Linked DNA regions of Homo sapiens: all the other regions are reported to be linked to region 5. Evidence: microRNA targets listed by miRTarBase, many of them from high-throughput screens and not tested one by one. Region 5 holds a microRNA gene; each other region holds the end of a gene's coding sequence.

What was found. The annotated mature microRNA hsa-miR-5588-3p reads AAGUCCCACUAAUGCCAGC and lies in region 5 at 2,594-2,612, opposite strand. An mRNA with a match to its seed (bases 2 to 7 or 8) in the 3' UTR can be bound and repressed. Matches are read on the target gene's strand: a 7mer-m8 pairs with bases 2 to 8, a 7mer-A1 pairs with bases 2 to 7 and ends in A, and an 8mer does both.
Region 1: the mRNA of ZSWIM1 is a reported target of hsa-miR-5588-3p. Seed matches in the 3' UTR shown: 8mer at 2,928-2,935.
Region 2: the mRNA of LRIF1 is a reported target of hsa-miR-5588-3p. Seed matches in the 3' UTR shown: 8mer at 2,552-2,559.
Region 3: miRTarBase lists SLC16A9 as a target of hsa-miR-5588-3p. Seed matches in the 3' UTR shown: 8mer at 3,472-3,479.
Region 4: the mRNA of SNU13 is a reported target of hsa-miR-5588-3p. Seed matches in the 3' UTR shown: 7mer-m8 at 1,718-1,724.

What each region holds. Positions count from the first base shown.
Region 1 is chr20:45,883,303-45,887,429 of GRCh38, reverse strand. ZSWIM1 (zinc finger SWIM-type containing 1) reads right to left here. Exons shown (of 2, transcript NM_080603.5): 2 at 2,164-4,127. The coding sequence ends at 3,380. It overlaps SPATA25 (spermatogenesis associated 25), which reads left to right. Exons shown (of 2, transcript NM_080608.4): 2 at 285-939. The coding sequence ends at 913. Among named protein-coding and RNA genes, the nearest start is that of SPATA25, 2.3 kb to the left of the region's middle. RefSeq lists enhancers at 96-596, 597-1,097.
Region 2 is chr1:110,944,721-110,948,720 of GRCh38, forward strand. LRIF1 (ligand dependent nuclear receptor interacting factor 1) reads right to left here. Exons shown (of 4, transcript NM_018372.4): 4 at 2,470-3,679. The coding sequence ends at 3,239. Among named protein-coding and RNA genes, the nearest start is that of LRIF1, 17 kb to the right of the region's middle.
Region 3 is chr10:59,649,068-59,653,191 of GRCh38, forward strand. It overlaps SLC16A9 (solute carrier family 16 member 9), which reads right to left. Exons shown (of 6, transcript NM_194298.3): 6 at 1,697-3,883. The coding sequence ends at 3,705. Among named protein-coding and RNA genes, the nearest start is that of SLC16A9, 59 kb to the right of the region's middle.
Region 4 is chr22:41,671,665-41,675,813 of GRCh38, reverse strand. SNU13 (small nuclear ribonucleoprotein 13) reads left to right here. Exons shown (of 3, transcript NM_001003796.2): 3 at 619-1,881. The coding sequence ends at 881. It overlaps LOC107985567 (protein LLP homolog), which reads left to right. Exons shown (of 1, transcript XM_047441692.1): 1 at 1-612. Among named protein-coding and RNA genes, the nearest start is that of SNU13, 15 kb to the left of the region's middle.
Region 5 is chr3:185,250,617-185,254,765 of GRCh38, forward strand. MIR5588 (microRNA 5588) reads right to left here and starts at 2,656; the gene lies at 2,594-2,656. EHHADH (enoyl-CoA hydratase and 3-hydroxyacyl CoA dehydrogenase) reads right to left here and starts at 3,433. Exons shown (of 7, transcript NM_001966.4): 1 at 3,333-3,433. The coding sequence starts at 3,406.

The DNA of each region.
Region 1 (4,127 bases), not on the chromosome of region 5:
CCTAGAATCAATTCTTTTAGAAGAAAAGCCATTCCAAACATCCTTGCCAATCAATAACTACCCGCTTGCTCACTATTCATTAATTCAACAAACGCTTCTCCATCACCTACTCCGTGTTGGGGACTGGGAGTGTGGATATGAGTAACACCTAGTTCCCAACCTCTAGACAGTCCGCTGGGGCTGGTCTTAGTTACGCCCCCAAGCTCTGCTCCCATGCCCTGCCCCTCAGGGCCCCCTCCTCAAAGAACTGAGAATAACGTTCCATTTCATTCCTGTCTCTGCAGGTGGGGCTGCTTCTCCAGGCTTGTCCCTTGGCCTCTGTAGTCCTGTAGAGCCAGTGGTGGTGGCCTCTGGTGGAACAGGCCCACTGAGCCAGAAAGCTGAGCAGGTGGCACCTGCTGCCCAGGCCTGGGGCCCAGCCCTGGCAATGCCACAAGCCAGGGGCTGCCCTGGGGGGACTAGCTGGGAGACACTACGGAAGGAATACAGCCGAAACTGCCACAAATTCCCGCATGTGAGGCAGCTGGAGAGCTTGGGCTGGGACAATGGCTACTCCAGAAGCAGAGCCCCTGACCTGGGTGGCCCCAGCAGGCCTAGGCCCCTGATGCTGTGTGGGCTGTCACCACGGGTTCTACCGGTACCCTCTGAGGCAGTGGGGAAGGAGGCCAGCTCCCAGCCTGATATCTGCATCCTCACCCTCGCCATGATGATCGCTGGCATCCCCACCGTGCCCGTCCCAGGAGTTCGGGAAGAGGACCTGATCTGGGCCGCTCAAGCTTTCATGATGGCCCATCCGGAGCCAGAGGGTGCTGTGGAGGGGGCGCGGTGGGAGCAGGCACATGCCCACACAGCCTCTGGGAAGATGCCCCTAGTGAGATCTAAAAGGGGCCAGCCTCCTGGCTCCTGCTTGTAGATGGATGAAATAGCACCAGATATGTAGGGTGGTTTCTCCGTATGGTTCTTGGGCAGACAGGGTTGGGAGGAGGGCCTATGGCAGGGATGGGGATAGAGCTGGTGGTTGAGCCATTCTGACAAATTCCAGTCCTTCATCAGGGACTTCCAGACCCTAAAGTTTCTCCAGATACCACTAAGACAGGAGATAGGTTTTGTCAGGTAGATACAATGGAAATTATCTGAGGTAGGGGCCCCTGCTTGGAGAGTTAAGGCTGCTTTTATGTTGTTTTGAAGACTTGATCAGAATTTTTTTTTTTTTTGAGATAGGGTCTCACTGTGTCACCAATGCTGGAGTGCAGTGGCACAATCACAGCTCACTGCAGCCTCAACCTCCTGGGCTCAAGTGATCTTCCTACCTCAGCCTTCCTGAGTAGCTGGGACTACAGGCACGTGCTACATCCAGCTAATTTTTGTATTTTTTGTACAGAAGGGGTTTTGCCATGTTGCCCAGGCTGCTCCAATCTGCCTGTTTTGGCCTCCCAAGGTGTTGGGATTAGAGGCGTGAGACGCCGTACCTGGCCTACCCAGAATTTTTTTTTTTTAATTTTTATCTTTTAGACAGAGTCTTGCTCTGTCACCTAGGCTGGAGTGCAATGGCATGATCTTGGCTCACTGCAACCTCCGTCTCCCAGGTTCAAGTGATTCTCCTGCCTCAGCTTCCCGAATAGCTGGGATTACAGGTGCCTGCCACTACGCCCGGCTAATTTTTGTATTTTTAGTAGAGACACGGTTTCACCATGTTGGTCAGGCTGGTCTCAAACTCCCGACCTCAGGTGATCCGCCTGCCTCGGCCTCCCAAAGTGCTGGGATTACAGGTGTGAGCCACCATGCCTGGCCAGAATTTCTTATATTAAGTCCTAGGTATTTGAATTCTCCTCTTGCCTTAAATTTCCCAGCATGTTGAAGGCAGGTCATAGGACCATAGGCAAGGAAGGAAAATTAATACTTAATTGAGCACCCACTAGGTATGCCTGCTCTGTGAACATACCCTGTGGAGATCCCCATTTTTACAGATAATCAGGTTGAGGTTTAGAGGGGTAACTTATCCTAATAAGTCTCATAGCTAGTAAAAGGCAGAACCAGGCACAAAAATCAAGCAGGGAAGGAACCAACCAGGATTCACATGTTGTATAACACTCTAAAGTCTATTCTCTCCATGATATACCCTAAACTGCCTTCTATGGAACAAAAAAAAAACTAGACAAGTGCTAGAATATGCAACATTCAGTTTTATTGACCCCAGGATGGGACAAGGAAAAAAGTTCAGGGAGCCTGGCTGAGTCAGCTCCCCAGAGGGGCCTCTTCCCCTGTAGGAAGCCTCCCAGCCCAGCTCACTTAAAGGAGACGGGTTAAGTGAGTCATCTCATGACTGGGGCAACTGCTACCAAGCCCCAAACCTCAACCTCACCACCTGATGTTTTATCTCTTATCTTAGACCAGGGGTTGCCATTTATTTTATTTTTTTTAGATGGAGTCTCACCCTCCCAGGCTGGAGTGCAGTGGCAGCAGGATCTTGGCCTACTGCAACCTCTGCCTCCCAGGTTCAAGCGATTCTCCTGCCTCAGCCTCCCGAGTAGCTGGGATTACAGGGCCCCCGCCACCACACCTGGCTAATTTGTGTATTTTTAGTAGAGACAGGGTTTCACTATGTTGGCCAGGCTGGTCTTGAACTCCTGACCTCAAGTCATCTGTCCACCTCAGCCTCCCAAAATGCTGGGATTACAGGCGTGAGCCACCATGCCCAGCTGGATTGCCTGCTTTTTTAAAGACCTTTGAGCTAAGAAAGGTTTTTACCTTATGAAAATGTTAAAACAGGCCGGGTGCGATGGCTCACGCCTGTAATCCCAGCACTTTGGGAGGCCGAGGCGGGCAGATCACGAAGTCAGGAGATCGAGACCATCCTGGCTAACACGGTGAAACCCCGTCTCTACTAAAAATACAAAAAATTAGCCCGGCATTGTGGCGGGCGCCTGTAGTCCCAGATACTCGGGAGGCTGAGGCAGGAGAATGGTGTGAACCCAGGAGGTGGAGCTTGCAGTGAGCAGAGATTGCGCCACTGCACTCCAGCCTGGGTGACGGAGACAGACTCCTTCTCAAAAAAAAAAAAAAAAAAAAAAAGAAAAAAAATATTAAAACAAAACCAAGAATATACAACAGAGACTGTATGTGGCCACCTGAGTAAACTAAACAGATTAAGATTTGCTGACTCCTGTCTCATTGAGCTAGACACATGCTAGGTAGCAGGCCATGGTAGATGAGAAGACCCTTCAACCTTGTCCTTGTTGTCCTTGTTCTGGAAGGAGGGCCCACGGAAGTACAACAGTGTAAGGGAGTGTGTGTGTGTGTGTGTGTGTGTGTGTGTGTGTGTGTATGGGTGGATGTGAGTGTGCACAGGTGCATGAGCATCTCTGGGCATCGAGAATAATCAGAGTTGGACCTGCTCATAAGGCCCAATCCAGCTGTCGGCCAGTTCCCGCAGGGTGCTATACCTCCGCTCAAACTCCTCCTTGGTGCAGTGCTGCAACAGCTGACCCACCTCCTCGGTGAGGTGAGTCACTGCCAGGTGCTTATCCAGGGTCTCACTCCACTTGCTGCCCAGGATGCTGTCTAGACTGGTAGCACAGCCTGCCGTCCACTGAGCCGGCAGCATGTCGGGCTGGAGCACCTGGCGGCGGGCACTGAGCATGGCTAGGATGTGGCGGCAGGGCAGGTGGAAGGCCTGGTTAAAGTAGCAGCTGCAGCTGGCAGGGGGCTGGGGCTGCACCTTATGGGTATCTTCCAGGATCTGTATGTTCATCTTTTCTGAGCCAGAGCCAATGAGGTGTGTGGATTTCTGGACCACAGCAAGCTCGCCCAGGCACAGTTGGGCTGCTGGCCCTGTGCAGATGGCATTGAGGGAGTGCTGGATGTGGGATTCTACCAGCTGCTCCAGTTTGGGGCTTTCGGGGATGGTGTCTGAGGGAGCATGATTGTTCTGGGCACACAGGCCCTGGTTGAAGTTTGCCTTGTCTGCAGAGTTCTGCTGCATGTAACGGAACAGAGAAGCCATACCTTGTTTCTCAGATGGGGTGGTACCAAAGAACTGGCTGAGGATGTGGGTGGTGACCTCGAGGCTCTGGAAGTAGTGGCTGCTCTCAGCTCGGCTTCTCCAGCGGTGAGCCAGCCAGATGCGG
Region 2 (4,000 bases), not on the chromosome of region 5:
AACAAAACCACTCACTTAAAAGCTCTACAGGGTATAACAGCTAGATAAGACACATAGACCTAGATTTAATACTGCTTTAGAAAAACCAGTGGTAAAAAACGTTTTGAGGCCAAATTGGTAAATTTAGCTTTAGTATTAGAGATGAAAACACTGAAAGGGAAAGCTCAAGGTTGCTGTTTTTTTTTTTTTTTTTAAAGGTATGTTCTCACTCTGTCAACCAGACTGGAATGCAGTGGCATGTTCACAGTTCACTACGACCTTGACCCACTAGGCTCAAGTGATCTTTCCACCTCAGCCTCCCAAGTAGCTGGGACTACAGGCACATGCCACCACACCTGGCTAAATTTTTGGCAAAGATGGGGTCTATTGCCATTGCCCAGCCGAACTCCTGGCCTCAAGTGATCCTCCTGCCTCAGACTTCCAAAGTGTAAGGATTACAGGTATGAGTATGCCAGGCCAATTCTTGACTTTAAAAGCAGGATTCAGAATAGTGTAAATAAGGACCTCATTTTGATCAAAAATATATGTATGTATGACGCACACAGAATGATCAGAAAGGATATATAAGGTATTAGTGGTAAACTTTGGATGGGAATATGAAGTTCTAGTTTTTAATATTTTGCTTGCTATATTTTCAATTTTTAATATTTCACTTGCCCTTCCCTCCCCCTCTTCCTTCTTCCGTTCCTCTTTCCCCTCCCTCCCTCCCTCTCTCCTTCCTTTGAGACGGAGTCTCATTCTGTTGCCCAGGCTGGAGTGCAGTGGCACCATCTCCACTCACTGCAACCTCCACCTCCCGGGTTCAAGCAATTCTCCTGCCCCAGCATTCCCAGTAGCCGAGATTACAGGCATGCACAACCATGCCCAGCTAATTTTTCTACTTTTAGTAGAGACGGGGTTTCACCAGTGTTGGTCAGACTGGTCTCAAACTCCTTACCTCAGGTGATCTGCCCACCTCGGCTTCCCAAAGTGCTGGGATTACAGGTGTGAGCCACTGCGCCTGGCCTATATTTTCTACAATACATTTGCACTGTTTCTATGACAGAATGTTTCAACATTTTTCAAAGGAAGTGATGATTCATGAAATTACATTCTGCTGATAAATCAAGAAGACTGACAATTGACTACTGAATCTAGTAATATGGAAGTCACTGGTGACCTTGACAGTATGTTTATGTGGTGTGGGGAGAGCAAAACCTGACTGAAATAGTTTGGCAGTTCCTCAAAACATAGTTAAACACAGTTATTGTATGACCCAGCAATTACAGTCCTAGGTATATACCCAAGAGAACTGAAAATATATACCCATTAAAAAACCTTGTACACAAATATACACAGCAACATTACTTGTAGCTGCCAAAAGTGGAAACAATCCAAATATTCATAACGAATGGATAAAATGTGGTATATCCATGATGGAATATTATTCAGCAATAAATAATGAAGTGCTGATAAATGCTACAACATGGATAAACCTTGAAAACATTAGACTAAGTAAAAAAACACCAATCACAAAGAAAAACATATTGTATGATTCCATATATATGAAATGTTCACAACAGGCAATTCCATAAAGACAGAAAGCTTTTTAGTGCTTGCCTATGGCATAAGGAGAGGTGATGGGGAATGACTGCTAATGGGTATAAGGTTTGTTTGGGGGATGTTTTGAACATTTTGAAAATGTTCTAAAATTATAGTGTTGATGGTTGTACAACTCTGTAAACATATTAAAAACCAGAGAACTGTGTACTTTAAAAAGCTGGATTTTACAGTACATGAATTATATTGCAAAACAGCTGTTAATAGAAAGCAGCAAAATCTAGCTGATCTGTGTATTTCACTTCTTTACAGTATTTTCTGATTTACTCTTTTGTTGCCATTGCACAGATTTTTTTTTTCTTTAACCTCTCTTACTTCCAGAGATTTGATCCTTTTTTTTTTTTTTTTTTTTTTTGAGACGGAGTCTGGCTCTGTCGCCCAGGCTGTAGTGCAGTAGTGGCACAATCTTGGCTCACTGCAACTTCTGCCTCCCAGGTTCAAGCGATTCTCCTGCCTCAGCCTCCTTAGTTAGGATTACAGGTGCCCGCCACTGTGCCCGACTAATTTTTGTATTTTTAGTAGAGACAGGGTTTCGCCATGTTGGCCAGGCTTGTCTCAAACTCCTGACCTCAGGTGATCCGCCCGCCTCGGCCTCCCAAAGTGCTGGGATTACAGATGTGAGCCACTGCACCCGGCCTGATCATTTTTTAATAACATTGTTCTCCTCCTCCTCCTTTAAGAGACAGGGTCTCACTGTGCTGCCCAGGCTGGCCTCAAACTCCTGGGCTCAAGCAGTCCTCCCCACTCAGACTCCTGAGTAGCTGGGACTACAAACACACCACCACGCTCAGCTAACTCCCCATCTCTTAATCCCTATCCCTACACCATTCCCAAACTTTCCCAAATCAAAGATTAACCAGACAGAGAAAATACACTTTTACAGTTTAAGAAATATTAAATGTGATAACTGTTCAGGATCTACTTTTTACACAATCTCAGTAACGTATGTACATAGTCCCAAAAAAAAAAAAAGCAGCATTTGCCTGGGAACACATCACTATAAGCAAACAAAACATCAAATGGCCTGAATTCTAAAATACCTTTGGATTATATAAAATTACATTGTAAAGTTACAAATGTTGCTCATTCTTGAGAAATGTTTGAATGTTTAAATAATGTTGCCATAATACATATTATTTCACGACATTAAAAAAAACAATGGTGAATACAAGGTATCATCATTTTAAGGGTAAAGAGATAAAGCAAGTACATATACAAATCCACTGGAAAAGCTAAGTTTGGAGCTGATTTCCTCTCTTGAATTGTAAAATTTCAGTAATACACAGTCACTATCTACTGCTGGAATAATGCCTGAGCAATTTAGGTAAAGATACAAACAATAACAAAAACCCTGCCCAAATATTCAAACTTGGAGAATTCTAGTTAAAATAATAGAAAAATATAAAATTTATCCTTCCAAAAAAAGGTATCTAAGACAAAGGTATAGATACCCCATGTAAATTATTCACAAGTCATATGTGAATCAACCTTTTCTGTATTCCTTAAAGTTGTACAATCGACTGATGAAAAAACAAGCTTCATATTCAAAGACACTTTCAGAACACACCTACAATTAACTTATTAATGCTGAAGTATATTTTAAAAAACAGCTATTTCACTGAAGTCTTTACAGGAGATTTTATTTTTGGTGCATCTTCTTACGCATTTCTTCAAGAGCTGCTTCTTTCTCTCTCAGCACCTGCTTAAGTCTTCTTATTTTTTCATCTCGAATGGTTTCTTCTAACTCCGGTGGTGTCACTGGGAAAATATCTTCGGTATAATTTTTATTGAAGAAATGACTTTGTTCATAAGCTGCATTTGAATTCAAAGTGCCTTTCTCTTGCTTCTCATGGGTATAGTATTCCATCTCAGTTCTCTTTTCTTGTCTGGTTTTGCTGTGACTCGTGAGAATGTTATGTTGTGACACATCTGAAGTTGGTAAAATACTGCTTAGGAGTTGGGAACCGGTGACATTAGCTTCCCCATTTATGATTGCGTTATAAGCATTCTCTGTTTTTCTCTTCTTTATGTGATCCATCTTCTTATTAGTTTTTGCTTTTCTTTTCTTATCAAAATTCTGCTGCAATATTGAATAACATTCCAAAACAAAAACGAAATGTTACTGCTAAATGCACCGGGTACTACCAAACTTAACAACGTCTGCAGAAACAAATATCTAGCTATTACAATTAACAAAATTTATGGAAGACAACTACAGCAAGAGGGAAATATTTCCCACTGTATGGTACCAAAATGTCTTAATCATATTCAGTAAGAAGAAATTGCCTAATTCACATTTTCTTGCTCAAGTCAAGTATTAGAAGGCATACTGACTCACCACAGAAATATAATAGCACTTGTAAAGTGCCTGAGATATAAAATTGATTGTTTTTTTCTTTTC
Region 3 (4,124 bases), not on the chromosome of region 5:
TCATGAATCCCTAGGGAAAGAAGATTTTGACAAGAACAGGCAAAAGCTGCGACAATTATGTGATTAGGAATAACAGAGGCTCATTATTCTTCCAAATGAAGCCCTTTAATGCAAACATTAACCCTACACCTGTTCCCGGAACACTTGATGCCTCCCTCAGGTACAGAGAAGCAATACATTTAAGAATGACAACGACAAAAATAATAGCTAATATTTTATTGGACATCTACTACATATCAGGTATATATATTGGGAATCTTATTTAATTCCCACAATAGCCCTATGATGTGTTTTATAAATGAGGAAACTGAGGCTCTGAGAGGCTAAATAATTCGCTCACAGTCACCTGGCCACAGGGACTGAGATAGGCAATCTGGTTGTGGAATCACAACCTTAACAAGTATGTACACTGCAGTCCCAAGTATTATCCATGTATTCATAGAGCTCTGATCATTTTAACTGAGTGCGATTAAACTCCTTCCTCAAAGAGGGATTTTACTGACATCCTTCATATACAATTGACTATATAGCAGACGGTCCCAAGATATTTTTTTCTTTTTGAGATGGGGTCTCATTCTGTCACCAAGACTGAAGTGTAGTGGTGCAATCTTGGCTCACTGCAGCCTCCAACTCCTGGGTTCAAGTGACTCTCCTGCCTCAGTCACCTGAGTAGCCGGGATTACAGGCATGTGCTACCACACCTGGCTAATTTTTGTATTTTTAGTTGAGATGGGGTTTCACCATGTTGACCGGGCTGGTCTCCAAATTCTGGCCTCGAGTGATCCACCCACTCAGTCTCTCAAATTGCTGGAATTACAGATATAAGCCACTGTACCCCGCCCAAGATTGTTACTAATGAAGGAGAAAGTGCATGGCACTGCTAATGTAAATCATGTATTTTATGTGTTCAATATAATATTCCTTCTAAGTAAAAGAGAAAATGAGATGTCCTTTGTTTCAAAATGGAGCTCCCCTTTATGTCCTGGAACATCCTGAGTTAGGATAATTCTATACCAACTGCTAAGCACCGAGGCTACCTAAGGTCACTGGACTGGTTGGCTGGCGTAAATGTTTGGTCATGACCTCCCAGTACTGGAACTCCTGGTTCTTGGGAACTGTTCCTCATGAGCCCTTTAAAGGTCGGTGGCTGAACCTTCTTCCCTGCTGACATGATTACCCTACAGAAAATTTTCTCTGTTCACTAAAGGATTGGCTTTAGAGCAACCCTCCTGGCCAGGGCTAATTTCTGAACCATGTTAGAAATTAAAGGGTTTACTTTAATTTCTACAAAGAGAAAAATTTTGCATTTTGATTTTGGAAATTACTTATGCTTTTATAATATGTTGTCCATAGTATTATGACAATTATGTTTTAGATCATAAAATGAGGGTCATAATCTCCATCTCACAAGGTTATTATGAGGGTTAAACAACATAAGCTTGAAACATATTAAGAATTCTATAAATTATTATTAAGAACTAAGACCTGCAGAGTACTCTTTACCACAAGAGGTAAAGCTGATAAACTAGCTTTTTGGAAGGCAATGGTAAAAGTAGCTAAGCATTTTGAATATGCTTTTGTCCAATAACCATGTTCCAGAGTCTGAATTATGCCAGGTAATTTATAGTTTTACATTCAAGTGACATGTCACTATAATTGGGTGGAGAACTAAGAGGAGAAAAAGCAACCAAACTGATGCAAAACAAAGAAAAATATTTTATTGTAACTTAAAATTCATCCCCTAGACAACAGATAACGCCCACATTGGATGTTATTTAGCAGACATAGTGAAGATGCCTTTGGACAATTATCAGCATTGATGAATATGAAGATGTCACATCAAAGTCAAACTTTTTCAGGTTATTGGGTTTCCTGAACATAACTGGCAAAAAGGAACTTTCAACACAACAAGTAGTTTAGTTTTTTTTTTTTTTATGTCACTTATTTTATTTACTAACCTTGACAGGGACTAAAGAATGAGGTACAGAAAACTTTCCAGAAGTCTGAGTGTGGTGTAGAAGTCCAAGACAACTTGGAGCTCCATTATTGCATTATTAAGTAGAATGAACTGTTATGAAATTCTCCATATTCCAGGTTTACTACATAGAAAAGTACTATTTACCTACCTCACAGAGGTATTGTGAGGATTTGTGTTTATAAAGTGCTTCAGGCGCCTTCGAAGAAAGGCAACATACAAGTATAAAATAATCATACAAATTTCAAAATAAATGAAAAGATGATTTTGGCACAATGGGAAGGGTGCCTCCTATTTAAAGAACACTTGGCTATTGGTTTATAAAATCCCCTGACCTCTTGGGTTTTAAAAAAATTATTATTTAAAAGAATAAATGTTTTTCCATTGCCAATCTTATAAAAATTCTCAATCCAGGCTGTGTTATCAGAATCACTTGAAGAGCTCAGTAAAATTATAGATGTTTGGGCAACAGCCTACACCAGCAGAATTAAAAGTTCTATGTGTGATACCCAGGTACCTATATTTTCAAAAAGATCTATAGGGAATTCTGATGCATACCAAAGTTTAAAACCCATTTCTTTAGAAAAAAAATCAATGTATTAAACATTGGAGTTTATCCCAAGGACATTTTTCTTAAGGTTAAATGCAACTGCATAAGGGTATTAATTTCTTATTGCCCTTTTCCATTCCCATATCCCATGCAGACTTAGAGCATGCATAGCACACACACACACACACACACACACTCACGTTTAATTCTGCCCTTGAATTATATTTGATAGTGGTAAAATCTGATAGTAGCAAATAAATGCTTCACTGGGAGGATATGCAAGAACTTGCAGCCCATCCCCACTGTGCCCAAAGCAAATGGATGTTTCCCATTTGCCAGAACGGAATGATTGAGAAATGTGTTTCCAATTTGGAAACAGGTAAAATTAGCACTTCCCAGGAAACATCAGCTGAGTGGATGGCCAAGAAGCAAAAGTGAGCAAGGTTGGAGTGGTCAACCATGAAGAAAGTCTACAGTGACTACTTCTCCATTTGGAGTTCACCCACATCTCAGCAAATACCTTAGGAACTGAAACAGTTGCTCAGTGGGTACCAAACAACATGCGAGTACTTCAGTGAGGTAAATAGAATAATGAAAACTGGTGACTGTAGGTTAAAATATATTTTTTTAAAAAATGACCAATTTGCTCCACTGCAATTCTTAAGGCTGTTTTAGTCGCCACTTTAATTTCCTGGCTGGCTTGAAGTCTTCTGTTTACTAGCAAGTCAAACATAGAGAAGAGAATGATTTATTTCCTAGTGGGCTTCACACATATCTTATCATGATGCTTGCATCACTTTTAAAATAGGAGCAGTCTCTCTAGGTGCCTTGCAGTGGATTAAATGGAGTCGGCAGAGAAATTATACTTCTTTACACAGAGAAAGCCTTCTGAGGCTGGTCAAACTTTTTACAATGTTAAGAACTAGTGAATAACAGCAAAACAGAATAGTCCCATTGATGGTGTGGGGAGGAGAAATAGAAAAAAATACGAGATAGAGGCTACGCATACACTACATAAAAAATAGGATATATAAAAAAAAATAATTCATTCAGAGTCAGTCATTGTGAAATTTTGCTATGAGAAAATAGTCTTGACTCTAGAAAATTTGCTTGAGAATCTGTTAAAATATCGTTGCTATATGGTATAAAATAGCAAAAATAGTGTCTTCCAATATTCTTCTAAACATTAGAGGCAACTTTGTACAAGAAAGTTGTTGGAGCTGGCTTGGGGAGTTGCTTGTTGCATGTATCCCAAGAGGGCAAGGCTGCCAGCAGCAGAATAAAACCTCCCAGCAGGACGCAGAAGCCACTAAAATAAAATGCAATATCATAGGTCTGGGTCCAGTCATAAAACCAACCTGAAAAGGCAGTAAGAAAAAAAGTAAGTTTCATGGAAATAGTATGAACATCCATCCCATACCCTAATTATATCAGTTTTATATATAGTTATAATTAGTATATATATTACTCCACTACTTCCAGCGTGGTTTACTGGGAGTTAGAAGAAGAGAATCTCTCAAATATTTGGATAAGAATAAGCAGGCAGGCTGGGTGCGGTGGCTCACGCCTGTAAACCCAGCACTTTGGGAGGCCGAGGCG
Region 4 (4,149 bases), not on the chromosome of region 5:
GCGCCATTGCACTCCAGCCCGGGCGACAGTGTGAGACTCCATCTCAAAAAAAGAAAAAAAAAAAAAAAAGAAAGAAAAAAGTTGTCAGATTAGGACAGGCACAGTGGCTCATACCTGTAATTTCAGCACTTTGGGAGGCCGAGGTGGGTGGATCACTTGAGGTCAGGAGTTTGAGACCAGCCTGGACAACATGGTGAAGCCCTCTCTCTACTAAAAATACAAAAATTAGCTAAACACAGTGGCACGTGCCTGTAATCCCAGCTGCTTGGGAGACTGAGGCAGGAGAATCACTTAAACCCGGGAAGCGGAGGTTGAAGTGAGCCAAGATCGCACCACTGCACTCCAGCTGTGTGACAGAGCAAGACTCCATCTCAAAAAAAAAAAAGAAGAAGAAGAAGTGGTCAGATTCAGGACGTGTTTTGAGGATAAGTGGTGGATTTAATGTAGGGCTTGAGAAAATGCCATTGTGTATGACTGACTGGTGTTTGAATCCTTTATCATATCCCAGGGCCGGTCTAGGACACATAATTGTGTGTGCCTAGGCATTCTTCCCAGTTTGTTGTGGCTGCCCTGCCCAAGCCCACATCACCTATTAGCTTCACGTCCTTCTCTCCGCAGCCACCAAAACCCTCAACAGGGGCATCTCTGAGTTCATCGTGATGGCTGCAGACGCCGAGCCACTGGAGATCATTCTGCACCTGCCGCTGCTGTGTGAAGACAAGAATGTGCCCTACGTGTTTGTGCGCTCCAAGCAGGCCCTGGGGAGAGCCTGTGGGGTCTCCAGGCCTGTCATCGCCTGTTCTGTCACCATCAAAGAAGGCTCGCAGCTGAAACAGCAGATCCAATCCATTCAGCAGTCCATTGAAAGGCTCTTAGTCTAAACCTGTGGCCTCTGCCACGTGCTCCCTGCCAGCTTCCCCCCTGAGGTTGTGTATCATATTATCTGTGTTAGCATGTAGTATTTTCAGCTACTCTCTATTGTTATAAAATGTAGTACTAAATCTGGTTTCTGGATTTTTGTGTTGTTTTTGTTCTGTTTTACAGGGTTGCTATCCCCCTTCCTTTCCTCCCTCCCTCTGCCATCCTTCATCCTTTTATCCTCCCTTTTTGGAACAAGTGTTCAGAGCAGACAGAAGCAGGGTGGTGGCACCGTTGAAAGGCAGAAAGAGCCAGGAGAAAGCTGATGGAGCCAGGACAGAGATCTGGTTCCAGCTTTCAGCCACTAGCTTCCTGTTGTGTGCGGGGTGTGGTGGAATTAAACAGCATTCATTGTGTGTCCCTGTGCCTGGCACACAGAATCATTCATACGTGTTCAAGTGATCAAGGGGTTTCATTTGCTCTTGGGGGATTAGGTATCATTTGGGGAGGAAGCATGTGTTCTGTGAGGTTGTTCGGCTATGTCCAAGTGTCGTTTACTAATGTACCCCTGCTGTTTGCTTTTGGTAATGTGATGTTGATGTTCTCCCCCTACCCACAACCATGCCCTTGAGGGTAGCAGGGCAGCAGCATACCAAAGAGATGTGCTGCAGGACTCCGGAGGCAGCCTGGGTGGGTGAGCCATGGGGCAGTTGACCTGGGTCTTGAAAGAGTCGGGAGTGACAAGCTCAGAGAGCATGAACTGATGCTGGCATGAAGGATTCCAGGAAGATCATGGAGACCTGGCTGGTAGCTGTAACAGAGATGGTGGAGTCCAAGGAAACAGCCTGTCTCTGGTGAATGGGACTTTCTTTGGTGGACACTTGGCACCAGCTCTGAGAGCCCTTCCCCTGTGTCCTGCCACCATGTGGGTCAGATGTACTCTCTGTCACATGAGGAGAGTGCTAGTTCATGTGTTCTCCATTCTTGTGAGCATCCTAATAAATCTGTTCCATTTTGATGACAGAATGGCAGTGCCTGATTCTTAGTAAGTATCCGGCTAAAATTGGAATGAAGACATACTTAGCTTTACTAGAGTGGTGATAGCTGCTTAAGACTTTTTTTTTCTTCTTTGTGAAAGAGTTTCACTCTTGTTGCCTAGGCTGGAGTGCAATGGCACGATCTCGGCTCACTGCAGCCTCTGCCTCCTGGGTTCAAGTGATGCTCCTGCCTCAGCCCCCAAAGTAGCTGGGATTACAGGCGTGCGTCACCACGCCCAGCTAATTTTGTATTTTTAGTAGAGACAGGGTTTCACCATGTTGGCCAGGCTGGTCTTGAACTCCTGACCTCAGGTAATCTGCCTGTCTCAGCCTCGCAAAGCGCTGGGATTACAGGTGTGAGCCACCACGCCTGGCCACTTGCTTAGACTTTTTTTTACCAGAAGGCTATGGAAGAGCTGTCTCCTCCTACCAGGTAGTTTCTACCTTGGCAGTTCAAAATGTCGTCTTATACACACTCAACTGGAGCATTGCTATCACTGGAACTGGCTTTCTCAACCTCCGTGCTGTTGACATTTGGGGCTGGTTAATTTGTTGTGAGGACTGCCCTGTGTGTTGTATGTTTAGTAGCATCACTGGCTTCTACCCGCTAGGTGGCAATAGCAGCACCCCCCCACAACCAAAAAATGTTTCCGGACATTGTTAAATGCCCCCGGCAGTAAAATCACCCCCAATTGAGAATCACTGTTGGAGAATCAGGGTTTCTAGTAACCCTTGGCACATGCAGGATTGGTATTGGTGACTAAAGCCACTGCCCCCTCACTTGCCTCTTCTACTTATTATCTTAAGGATAAGTTCCTTGAGAGCCTAATAACTCAGCTTGAGAAATCTTCCAAGGTGCAAGTAACTGGGTACCATAGTGATCCCCTCTTTGCCAGCTTGGGCCAATATACCCCTGCTCTAGCAAGAAGCACACCTGGGGGAACCTGGCAGCCACCTTAGCCAGTCGGACCTGTTCTGTGCATCCTGGGCTGGTCATTTCTCCCAGCTTACTCCAGTGTTCTCATCACCACCCCTGAAGCAGTTTTATATTTTTGGATGGTGGAATTTTACACAGTGCTTACTTTTTCACAGTCATGCATTCAGTGTTTTTGGTCAATGACAGACCACATATATGACAGTGGTCCCCTAAGATTGTAATACTGTGTTTTTACTGTACCTTTCCTACGTTAAGATGCACAAATGCCATTGTGTTACAATTGCCTACGGTATTCAGTAACATGCAGTACAGGTTTGTAGCCTAGGTGTATGTATAGTAGGCTGTTCCATCTAGGGTTTTGTTTGTTTGTTTGAGACAGTCTCACTCTGTCGCCCAGGCTGGAGTGCAGTGGTATAATCTCAGCTCACTGCAACCTCCGCCTCCTGGGTTCAAGCGATTCTTTTGCCTCAGCCTCCTGAGTAGCTGGGATTACAGGAGCACGCCACCACACCCGGCTAATTTTTGTATTTTTAGTAGAGACAGGGTTTCCCCATGTTGGTCAGGCTGGTCTTGAACTCCTGATCTCTTGATCTGCCCACCTCGGCCTCCCAAAGTGCTGGGATTACAAGCGTGAGCCACCGCACCCAGCCGGTTTTTGTAAGTATACTCTATGGTGTTTACACAGTGACGAAATTGCCTAACAATGCATTTTTCAGAACTTACCTCTGTCATTAAATGACACATTACTTTTTTTTTTTTTTGAGACAGTCTCGCTCTGTCACCAAGGTTGGAGTGCAGTGGAGCAATCTCAGCTCACTGCAACCTCCGCCTCCTGGGTTTAAGCGATGCTCCTTCCTCAGCCTCCTGAATAGCTGGGATTACAGACACACGCCACCACGCCCAGCTAACTTTTGTGTTTTTAGTAGAGACGGGGTTTTACCATGTTGGCCAGGCTGGTCGGGAACTCCTAACCTCAAGTGATCCAACCTGCCTCAGCCTCCCAAAGTGCTGGGATTACAGGCGTGAGCCATCCCGCCCAGCCAACGTAATGACTTTTTTCTTTCTTTTTTTTTTTTCTGAGACAGAGTCTGGCTCTTGTAGCCCAGGCTGGAGTGCAATAGCGCGATCTCAGCTCACTGCAACCTCCGCTTTCCAGGTTCAAGTGATTGTCCTGCCTCAGCCTTCCAAGTAGCTGGGATGACAGGTGCCCACCACCATGCCTGGCTAATTTTTTGTATTTTAGTAGAGACGGGGTTTCACCACGTTGGCCAGGCTAGTCTCAAACTCCTGACCTCATGGCCCACACCCCGCCTCCCC
Region 5 (4,149 bases):
ACAACAAACTTCTGTAAAGGCCATATTGTTAAGACCAACAACTATTAGTTAAAACCCCAAGAAATAAAAAGGATACTTGCCCTTATTTATAATGATTCCCTTACACCTAATTACTTTTCACCTCTTAACCTAGATGAAATCAGACAAAACCTCTTGGCTTCAGCTGGTTAATTAGAAGCCAAATCTGACCATGAAAAGCAAATTCAGAACCATTATATAACATCAAAAAGTCCAAAAGGCACACATTTCCTTCTGAATAAACAATGCTTACAAAACTAGCCAAAATTAGCTCAATCAGTGCCACTGAGGAGAAGAAACCAGCTTTTCCCATTTCAACCTATCTTCCTTTTTTATGTTCATAATTTTGCAAATATCAAAAACAGGAAAAAAATGAAAATAGCTATAACAGATACGCACTTTACTAGATTCAAGCTGACAGAGAGAGTCATAGCAATGTAAAGGCCGCAGAAGTTATGAAATTATTTTCTCCTGTTAATACTGTCAGGCATGAAGAAATAGAGTCTGGAGTAGAGACAGCATTTCATGACTACTGACCAAAACTCTTCAGCTTCTTTGACTATAGAAGGTCTTTCCTTTTTTTTTTAGACAGTTTTTTTTTTTAAACCAAAAGTCATCAAATCAAGTTTGTGGCTTGTGACCAGGATTTTTTCAAAGAAAAAGAAGAGATGAGAAAATAGACTATATCAAACAATATACCAAGTAAGGATAGGTTTTGTTTTAGGAAACTGCTTTCGGTTACGTGTTTGTATGTAAGTGTGTCTTGAATTGCTACGTAAAAACGTGAGCTTTCTTACTCTGTGGATTACAGTAAAGCAATCGTGTGAAAGCCATTGTTCTGGGAGACAGGCCTATTAATCAGGCATGTCCTATACTTATAAAGAGGGCTGGTGTTTATCTGAATGGAAGCAAACATGGCTGGCTAAACTAGCAATGAAGGATTTAAACTATTTGTTTTGGGGAAAAAATTTATATGTGTGTGTGTGTGTGTGTGTGTGTGTGTGTATTACACTCAAGTAAGAATCTCTCAATCAGCTAGGAGGAGACGACTTCCCATATAAAATTAGAAATAGGAAGGGGAAAAGGAAGAAAGGGAGGAAAGAAAAAGTGTAAGAAAAAAATTGAGGAATCTGTTAAACTTGAGGAACTCCTAGGATGTCCATTTCTACCTAAAAAAGTTCAGAAGACAGACAAAAAAGGGCAGAGAAGTACTTATTCCCAAGTGGAGAATATCTTCTTGATGAAACTGAAGTGGGTCCTGAGTAGCAGGGCCTGTTTTTGGGGCTTGAACAGGTCTTCTGACTAATAGGAATAACTAACATCTATTAAATGCCACTTCATAATTTCCAGCTGATTTAAACTTCACAACTTTATGAGGTAGGCCCTAACATTTCTCCTGCAAAGAGGATGGGGGTGGCACAGGTGGTTGCATGGGTGGGCAAGGAGAGCAGGTTAAATTCCAGAAATATTAAAAGCAATTGTCAGAGGCTGGGCACGTGGCTCATGCCTGTAATCCCAGCACTTTGGGAGGCCGAGGCAGGTGGATCACGAGGTCAGGAGATTGAGACCATCCTGGCCAACATGGTGAAACCCCGTCTCTACTAAAATACAAAAAATTAGCTGGGCGTGGTGGCACGCACCTGTAGTCCCAGCTACTCGGGAGGCTGAGGCAGGGGAATCACTTGAACCCGGGAGGCAGAGGTTGCAGTGAGCTGAGATCACGCCACTGCACTCCAGCCTGGCGACAGAGCAAGACTCCGTCTCAAAACAAGCAAATGAGCTTAAAAAAAAAAGAAAAAAAAAAAACAGTTGTCAGAAAATATTCCTAGTCATGGGTATTAGAGTATGGAACTTTTCCCCCTAAGGTCCTAATATCTAGCAATTCTAATCAGTATATAGACCAGTCCAAAATTGACATGTAATCATATTACTTACATTTTTCTTTGTCAAAACCAATATAACAGATATTTTGCTTTTTATTCTGGGAATGGCAAGTTAGTAGACATGTCATCCTTATGTGATTTTAGTCCTGCATTTTTTGACATTATTAAATGCAATAATTCATAATGAATTAATATTAATACTAATGATAAATCAAATCCAATGACAGTAGGATTTTTAAATTCTATTAAAATTAGCAGGTCTTCTCATTTCAGTCTCTTTGCTTCAGCAGCATGTTATAAGAATTTTGACCAAAGACCTTTCTCTCTATGCTTTATATATTCTTGATAAATTATAATTTCCACTAATCTTATTCCCTGTGGATAGGTAATTCTTTTTCAAGGCTGACATATAATTATTTTTTTAAGAGATGTAGAAGGACCAAACCAAATAATCATTACTTTTCAAAAAGGCAACATTGATCTCACTTTTTAATGTTTAAAGTGCACCACACAAGGCAAATACTCCCCAGTGAGAAAAAGAAGATAAGGTGCAATTTTTCAGAAAATGCTATTGCATAGGCTTAGTCTGATGTGAGTCTTCCTTGGAAGCACCAAAGTCCTGAGGTTTAAACAAATCAGGAGAAATAATTTTGCGTTTCCGGGCCAGGGCAAAATTCTGCTTTAATCACTGAGCTGGCATTAGTGGGACTTTTAACATTAAAAAAAAAAAAAAAAAAAGTCCCACTAATGCCAGTGATTGCCCTATTCCTAAAGCCTTTAGCCAAACATTGTAAGGACAGCCTGGACTCAAAGAAGGGGAGTGAGGCTGGATCAAAGTCCAACATCAAACTAAGTTAAGACCTTTGGATTAGAAAGTCGGCCTGCACACTGGGACCTGTTGTGGGGTGGGGGGAGGGGGGAGGGATAGCATTAGGAGATATACCTAATATTAAATGACGAGTTAATGGGTGCAGCACACCAACATGGCACATGTATACATATGTAACTAACCTGCACGTTGTGCACATGTACCCTAAAACTTAAAGTATAATTAAAAAAAAAAAAGAAAAATAAAAAGTCGGCCTGCAAAGCCAAAGTTGCAAGTAAGCAGGAGGGCTCCGCATGAAGGACAGGTCGAGGCCAACTCCCTAAGTGTTGATCTGTCTCAGCCTCAGCCTCAGTTTCCTTATCAGTAAAACGGGGACGAGAGTTCCCTGCGAAGATTAACCAAGCTAATCTAGGTTAAAAAAAAAAAAAAAGAAAAGAAAAAGAAAGAAAGAAAAGAAAAAAAAAGTTCCTGGCATGTACCAGTTGCTCAACTCTTGAGTGTCCTTCTCGGTTTAAACCGACGGGGGAGAGTCAAAGCCTCCGGAGCCAGAGGGCGGCTAAGGCCCGCACGGTCCCCGGGCTGGAGGCGACCGAGCCCGTTACCTGATCGCGTTGACCGGCGGGTTTCGGAGGCGGATTAGCGCCAAGGCGTTGTGCAGCCGCGTATACTCGGCCATGTTTCCTCTATCACCGAGGGCACCTCTGCCTCTCGCCGTCAGGCAAACCACTTTTCCGGGCGCGCCCGGCCTCCTCCAGAGGAGGGACGCCGGCTGGGCCAATGCGAGCCGGGGCGCCGCCTCCCGCCGCGCCTCTTCCCACCCAGCCCTCCTCTCCCGAGACCCCACCCGGCGCTCTACAGACGCTTGTCGCTTTCCCTTTATTAACTCCCATGCTGCTCCCACCAGAAGGTACAGCAAGGAGAATGATGGAAAACAGCTGTAATTGCCGGCAAGTCGAAGTTTGTAACCCCTTGGCCCATAGGGGCTGGCTACTGAGGACAAGTTCTGAGTTCGCTGAGACGGGCAAGCTGTCCTCATCGCGGTATTCATCTTCATGATCTTTCTGAACAGGGACAGATACCTGGGGCCCTCCCTGACAGTTATGTGATATTGATACACATCTGGAACACATAAAATACACATTGTTCATTTCACCTAAATGAGTAGGGTACTAATGAAACAGCCTTTGCAAAAATTCTAACAGTGAGAAAATTATGGCAGTCAAAGAGATCTGATTTAACCAACCCCATCTTGCCTTTAGCTGCCCTTAATTATTCCTGAGCTTAGGCCAAGTTAACTTTGGGAGACATTTGGTTTATAGTTTAAATGATAATAGCCCTTCCCCAAAACTCAACTGCCTTTGTAAAGCTAACCGAGAGACCACCAGGCTAGGAGGACAGAGGAGTGTGAATTCTCTCTGC